2 separate regions of the Homo sapiens genome follow, and region 2 is linked to region 1. Evidence: fine-mapped expression QTL. A gene starts in region 1. The other region holds a variant in brackets. All regions are shown on one strand. Distances are from middle to middle.

Region 1 (2,907 bases):
CATGGAACCCCAAGCCTTTCATTTTGCCTGGGCCACCCGTTACCTCCGGTCCAGTGAACTCTCCAGGCTGGAGAAGGATCTCCCTTTGGGGGGCCGCAGTCCCCAGATCCCCTCCGTTCCCTGTAGAGTGGGAGTTAGTCAGTTTAACAGCAGACCTAGGTCCACACATGGGCTCAGACCTCCTCCTCACACTCTACCTACCGTGCCTGGGTCCTCTGCATCTCCTAGTTCCCAGGTTGGGCGCTGCCACTGGGTGCTACCGCTGGGTACATGCCAGTAGTAAGTACCTGCAGCATCGTGGATCTTCCTCCAGCCAGGAGGCAGGCCAGCCTCCACCTCCAGACTGTGGTCCCCCCACAAGTCATCTACAGGAACACCGGATTAGAGAGGAGGGAGCATATGATTTGTGAGTTCAGAATAACATGCTGTCATAATCCCCTCTCCATCCCCAAAATGGGTCAGTTCTTAGGCTGAAGATCCAGGCTCCTCAATCTTGAAGACATCACATGTAAAGACCGGGTTCATTCGCCCCCTGGTCCCTACACAGAGAGGTATCCCCCACCGTCTTTGAGCCCCAGAGTAGCCTTTCGGATTCCCTCGTCCTCCCTCAGCTCCTGGTCTTCCCACCGGGCCCCTCCGTGCACACCATCGCAGTTGACCAGAATGATGGCCAGCATGTAATCCTTGCCCAGCATAACCCCGGCTGCTCCCCGCCAGCCTCTGCCGGCCCGCACTCTCAGCCCAGCGCGACCTCTGGAGCTACTGCGCCTGCAAGCCCAGCCTCTCTGCGCCGCAGGCTGCGGGGCCAGCTGGCGCCGCACAAATACGGGGCGGGACACGGGGCGGGACACGGGCCGGTCCCGGGGGAGGGCCTGAGCCGCACAGCCCGCCCAGGGGTGGTGCGTGTAAACGGGCGTCTGGATCCCCGAATGGTTGCGTGTTTCCGTGTGTGGGTCCGGGGGAGGCCCACGAACGCCAGCGAAACCGCTGACACCACCGCCCAACTATGAACTCATCAGGCGCCTGAAGACCGACACGCCGAACATGCGCCGCGCGCACTCGCGCACGAGTGAGATCATCGCGCCCCGGTCGTGAGTGCGCTCACACGCAGCCTGAGACTCGACGGGAGGGGGTCACGTGGAAGTATCTGAGAGAGGCGTACTTGGCCACTAGGAAAGCACCTCCCCCTTTCCAAAAATGCTCCGGAAGTGCCTTCGCCCTCCGTAAAGATGGCCGGGGCAGTCGGCACGAGGGAGGCGGGGATGCGCCTGCGCAACAAGTTCGGCGGGGAAGATGGCGGATGACAAGGTGAGTGGCCGTGGGGGTGATCTGCAGCCGGGCGTGGTCTTCACTCTCCTTGACCTTTTTAGTTCCGGGGAGAAGCGACTCTGGAGCGGCTCAGGAGTGAGGATGTCCCTTGTTTCTTCTGCGGCTCCTGTCAACTGCCTCAACAGTGTGGAGTGGTGTGGGGAGAGCATTCGGCGAGGCGGGAGGAGCCGTGGATCCCCCAGATGTCCCCTCCTGGGAACCATCACGAACCCGTTACTAGCACAGACTCAAAAACATTCACCCTTAAACACTCCTCACTTTACCCCATTCCCTAGCTCCCGAAATTTTCTTCCCAGTGACACGATGTTTCCAATCACACGGACACTCACACCACCCTCATTCAAACACTCCTTTGCATACATTCTGAATTTCATACTTATATGCGATCAAAATCACTCAGTCCATTTACTTACACACTTGCCGACAGTCTTTTTTGTCATTCTCAGTCACATCCAGTCACTCACATTCAGTTTGGGATGTCCTTGGGAAGAAAGAGGTAAAGCCCATCCAGGAACCAAGACAATAAAATTGTCCAGGAAACTGCCTCGGTCCATTACTCACCATTGGTCTAGAAGCTCAGCATTACCCACACATTTACTAAATGTCAGGCACTAGAACATAGTAGCCAAGACAGACTGGTCACGACTTTCAAGGAGCTCATAATGGAGTCAGTAGTGGTTTCCTGATGGACCTAATTAAAGGTCCCTAGCTGTCCCTCCTGCCTTTCCTACATACTGCTTGCTATATAAAATTCTTGTCAAGGTTGATGTAAGTTACTGGTTCAGATCCCATCTGTCAGTCCCTTCCTGGCCCTCATTTGAATTCTGTGCTTTTCAATGCTTGTCTTTCTTTGCCACTGCCATCTCAGGAAGCTTTTATAGGAAAAGGTCTTTCTGGCTCACCCCATCCCCTCCCAATTCCCAGCTTCTGATGGAATTGAGCAAGGGGTGGGGCTTAGTCAGACTGCTGGAGCCAGCCTCTCGCTTGTCCTAGGATTCTCTGCCTAAGCTTAAGGACCTGGCATTTCTCAAGAACCAGCTGGAAAGCCTGCAGCGGCGTGTAGAAGACGAAGTCAACAGTGGAGTGGGCCAGGTAAGGACTGTCCCACCCCACCCCTGCCTTAGGCTTTATTGCCCAACATGCTCTTGAGAGTGTTAAATGGATGGTAGAGATTTCTTCAGCAAGTGATTATTGAGGGCCTATTCTCAGTCACCCTAAGGACAATTTTTCTGAATGGCACATGAACTAATATCTTAAGTAGTGGTTAAGTAGGTGAAGAGGGGAGGAAAGAACATTCCAGGCAGAACAGCATATGTAAAGGCCTTGTGGTAGGAAGTAGCATTATAAACATGAGGGGTGAAAGGAGGTCCATTTGGCTACAGTAGTTGGGGAGCATGCTAGGAAATGAGGCTGGAGAAACCGGCAGGGCTAGGGGCATCTCTGACCTTGTGTGGCGGTGGAGTTCTATGGTTGGAGCTTTCTGACCCCAGGGTTCTGAGATTGTGTGATCAGAACTGCTTGGTTCTTTTTCTGGCCCCAGAACCTTGGGAAAAATCTGGAGAAAATACCACGGTTGTC
Region 2 (2,907 bases), 73 kb after region 1:
TAGGTGACACTGGACTTGACATGTTGAGAATGGTGTTGAGGGAAGGATGCTGGTAGAAAGAAAAGGGAAGGATGCAGGCAGAGAAAACAGCTTGTGCGAGAGCCTCCCCCAAGAGTGGGAGTAGGGTGGAGGAGAAAAAGAACAGGGCTTGTTGACAAAGAGAAGGTCCCAGAAGAGGTGAGTCCAGATTGGAGAGGTATGCAGGGGTTAGACCATGTAGGGCTAAGTCGGCCACAATTCCAATTTTGAATGTGAGGAACACGGTTTTTTATTCACTAGTGTTTCCTCAGTGCCTAGTAGACTAGTGGCACTCCACATTTGGTGAAAGATTTTATCCTAAAAATTATGGGAATTCAGTTTTATGCAGAGAAGTGAAATAATGATATCTTTCTCATTTTCATCACATATAAAATGAGAATAATGGTCATTGTGGTGAACATTCTGTAAAGCAAAAATAAAATTCTAAGGCCGCCCCCCACAACCATCTGAATGGACTTCCTCCTCAGCCAGGGCTCTTTCAAAATTAAACCCGAGTGACCGTTTCAGGCCATGATGGGAAGTAGGGGTTGAACGTGCCTCATTATACCTCTCTACCGTTAACATCAACACAGACTTTAAGTTTGATAAGAAACATTTTACAACCCATTCTCTCTGAAGCCTAGGATTTGAAGGTTTCCTCTGCAAATAAGAACTTGGGTCTCCACAATCCTTTATCTTAACCCAGACATTCCTTTCTATTGATTTCAGGTCTTTAGAGAAACTCAACCAATTGTCAACCAGAAAAATTTAAAATCTACCTATAAGCTGGAAGCCCCCCACCGCCCCACTTCGAGTTGTCCCGCCTTTCTGTTGTCCCACAAACCAATGTCTTTCTCTCTTTCCCCCTCCCCTCTCTTCCCTTCCTCCTTTCCTCTTTTCTTTTCTTTCTTTCTTTTCTCCCTTTCTTTCTTTCTTTCTTTCTTCCTTCCTTTCTTTCTTTTCTTTCTCTTAGGAATAACGCTCAAAATCCTAAGGGAAATTGAACACTCGAACAAAGGATTATTAGCAAAGCAATTTTACTTCTGCTCAGAGGGGTGTCTGCTTGGCCAGTCGCCATGAGAGCACACCTGAACAAAGGGGCACGAGAGCCTTTATTCCTGACGCAAGTCCTGCCCCTGTACCCTTTCCCCATTGGCCGGGGTCGGGTCATACAATCTGAACTAATCCCGGTTGGCTAAACATTTGATTTTTTTAGGTAATGTGGGCACGTAAAAGAAAGTGGAGAGGAAAGGGGAAGGGGTGCCTGTAATGAACTAGAAAGTTAGTCCTCTTTCCAAATAATGAAAGGAATGTGAGCTGGTACTGATAACGTCTGGTACTGATAACGTCTTGTACTGTGGCGTGCCTCGGCATCTAACGAAGGCAAAAAGGAGAAAAAGGAAAACAAAAGTGTGTGTGGGGGGGAGTACTATGAATTAAAGAATAAAAGATTGATCTAATTATTTGAAGAGAAACCTCATCATATCCCAGATTTCTTTCTTTCTTTCTTTCTTTTTTTTTTTTTTGAGACGGAGTTTCGCTCTTGTACCCCAGGCAATGGGGCGCGATCTCGGCCCACTGCAATCTCCGCCTCCC[G/A]GGTTCAAACGATTCTCCTGCCTCAGGCTCCCGAGTAGCTGGGATTACAGGCACCCACCACTACTCCCGGCTAATTTTTGTATTTTTAGTAAAGATGGGGTTTCACCATGTTGGCCAGGCTGGTCTCAAATTCCTGACCTCAGCTGATCCACCCGCCCAGGCCTCCCAAAGTGCTGGGATTACAGGCATGAGCCACCAGGCCCGGCCCAACCAGTGTATTTCTTGAATGAACTGAAGTCTCATATCTCCCTAAAATATGTAAAACCAAGCTGTACCGGACCACCTTGGGCACATGTTCTCAGGACCTCCTGAGGGCTGTGTCAAGGGCCATGGTCACTCATATTTGGCTCAGAATAAGTCTCTTCAAATATTTTACAGAGTTGGACTCTTTTCGTTGACAATTCAATGACGCTTCAAGCGTTTTTGGCAGCTCTCATCAGTGGGATCCGCATTAATAGTGAAACGGCATCATGGCGCTTCCCGCAGTTCGGGATTGTTTTGAACTTTCATCTAGAGCGTATTGTGGGTGGGGAAGTTGTGTTTGCTGAGTAGATTGTGACACTGCTGGCTTGGGTCACTCGAGGTCAGGGATGAGAGACTTTTTTTCCTAGAATTGGTAAGACAGGAAATCAATCAGAGGCAGAGCGACGCCTCTGGCTCTGGTCTAGTGGTGCAGCGTCTCTAGCCCTCGCCCCGCCCACCGTCCCCGCGAGGCGTCCACTCGCCGAGCCCCGCCCTCACCCAGCACCCACCCCGCTCCTCGCGCCCTCCCCGCCTGTTCCCGCCCTGTGCTGAGGCTGCGCAGTCGGTGCCATCTTCTACGCCCCTGGGAGCGTTGTGGCTGCTGTTTCCTTCGGCTTTCCTCCTCCTGCTCCACCATGTGGAGCCGACGGCAGGGCCGCCTCAGGCCCACGGTCTGCGGGGTGGAGGAGCTACGGCGCCGCCGGCGGGAGCGGGAGGCAGGTGTGGGCGGCCGAGGGAGCGCGGGGGTATATGGCGGTCGGGGATAAGTTGAGACCCCAGGCTCGGAGCCGCGGGTTCTGGGTTGTGGTCGTCCTTCCCACGCTCAGCCGGCTCCTCTGCCCCCAGCACTGCGGAAGGCGCGGAGGGAGCAGCAGCTGGTCAGCAAGAGGCTGCTGAGAAACGACGCCCCAGAGGAAGCTGGAGAGGGATGTGTGGCTGCGATCCTCGGGGAAACCGAGGTGAGGGGGCAAGGTAGGGTGCGCTGGAGTCCACGCCCGCTGGCGCCAGACTCCCGGGAGTACTCGAGGTCTGCCCCAAACCTGAACGCAA

What was found. PIP is the estimated chance that this variant, and not a neighbour inherited with it, causes the effect.
Region 2: its variant is fine-mapped to the expression of APBB3 in whole blood (TOPMed, PIP above 0.99).

The regions. Positions count from the first base shown.
Region 1 is chr5:140,563,551-140,566,457 of GRCh38, forward strand. APBB3 (amyloid beta precursor protein binding family B member 3) reads right to left here and starts at 1,048. Exons shown (of 13, transcript NM_133173.3): 1 at 647-1,048; 2 at 202-365; 3 at 44-120. The coding sequence starts at 695. It overlaps SLC35A4 (solute carrier family 35 member A4), which reads left to right and starts at 1,278. Exons shown (of 3, transcript NM_080670.4): 1 at 1,278-1,308; 2 at 2,323-2,421. It overlaps LOC131768270 (SLC35A4 upstream open reading frame protein), which reads left to right and starts at 1,278. Exons shown (of 3, transcript NM_001394034.2): 1 at 1,278-1,308; 2 at 2,323-2,421. The coding sequence starts at 1,294. MIR6831 (microRNA 6831) reads right to left here and starts at 201; the gene lies at 121-201. RefSeq lists enhancers at 206-265, 874-1,480, 1,236-1,355 and a silencer at 736-915.
Region 2 is chr5:140,637,036-140,639,942 of GRCh38, forward strand. It overlaps TMCO6 (transmembrane and coiled-coil domains 6), which reads left to right and starts at 2,416. Exons shown (of 12, transcript NM_018502.5): 1 at 2,416-2,577; 2 at 2,704-2,816. The coding sequence starts at 2,493. RefSeq lists a silencer at 2,228-2,477. The variant G/A (reference allele first, on the strand shown) is at 1,615.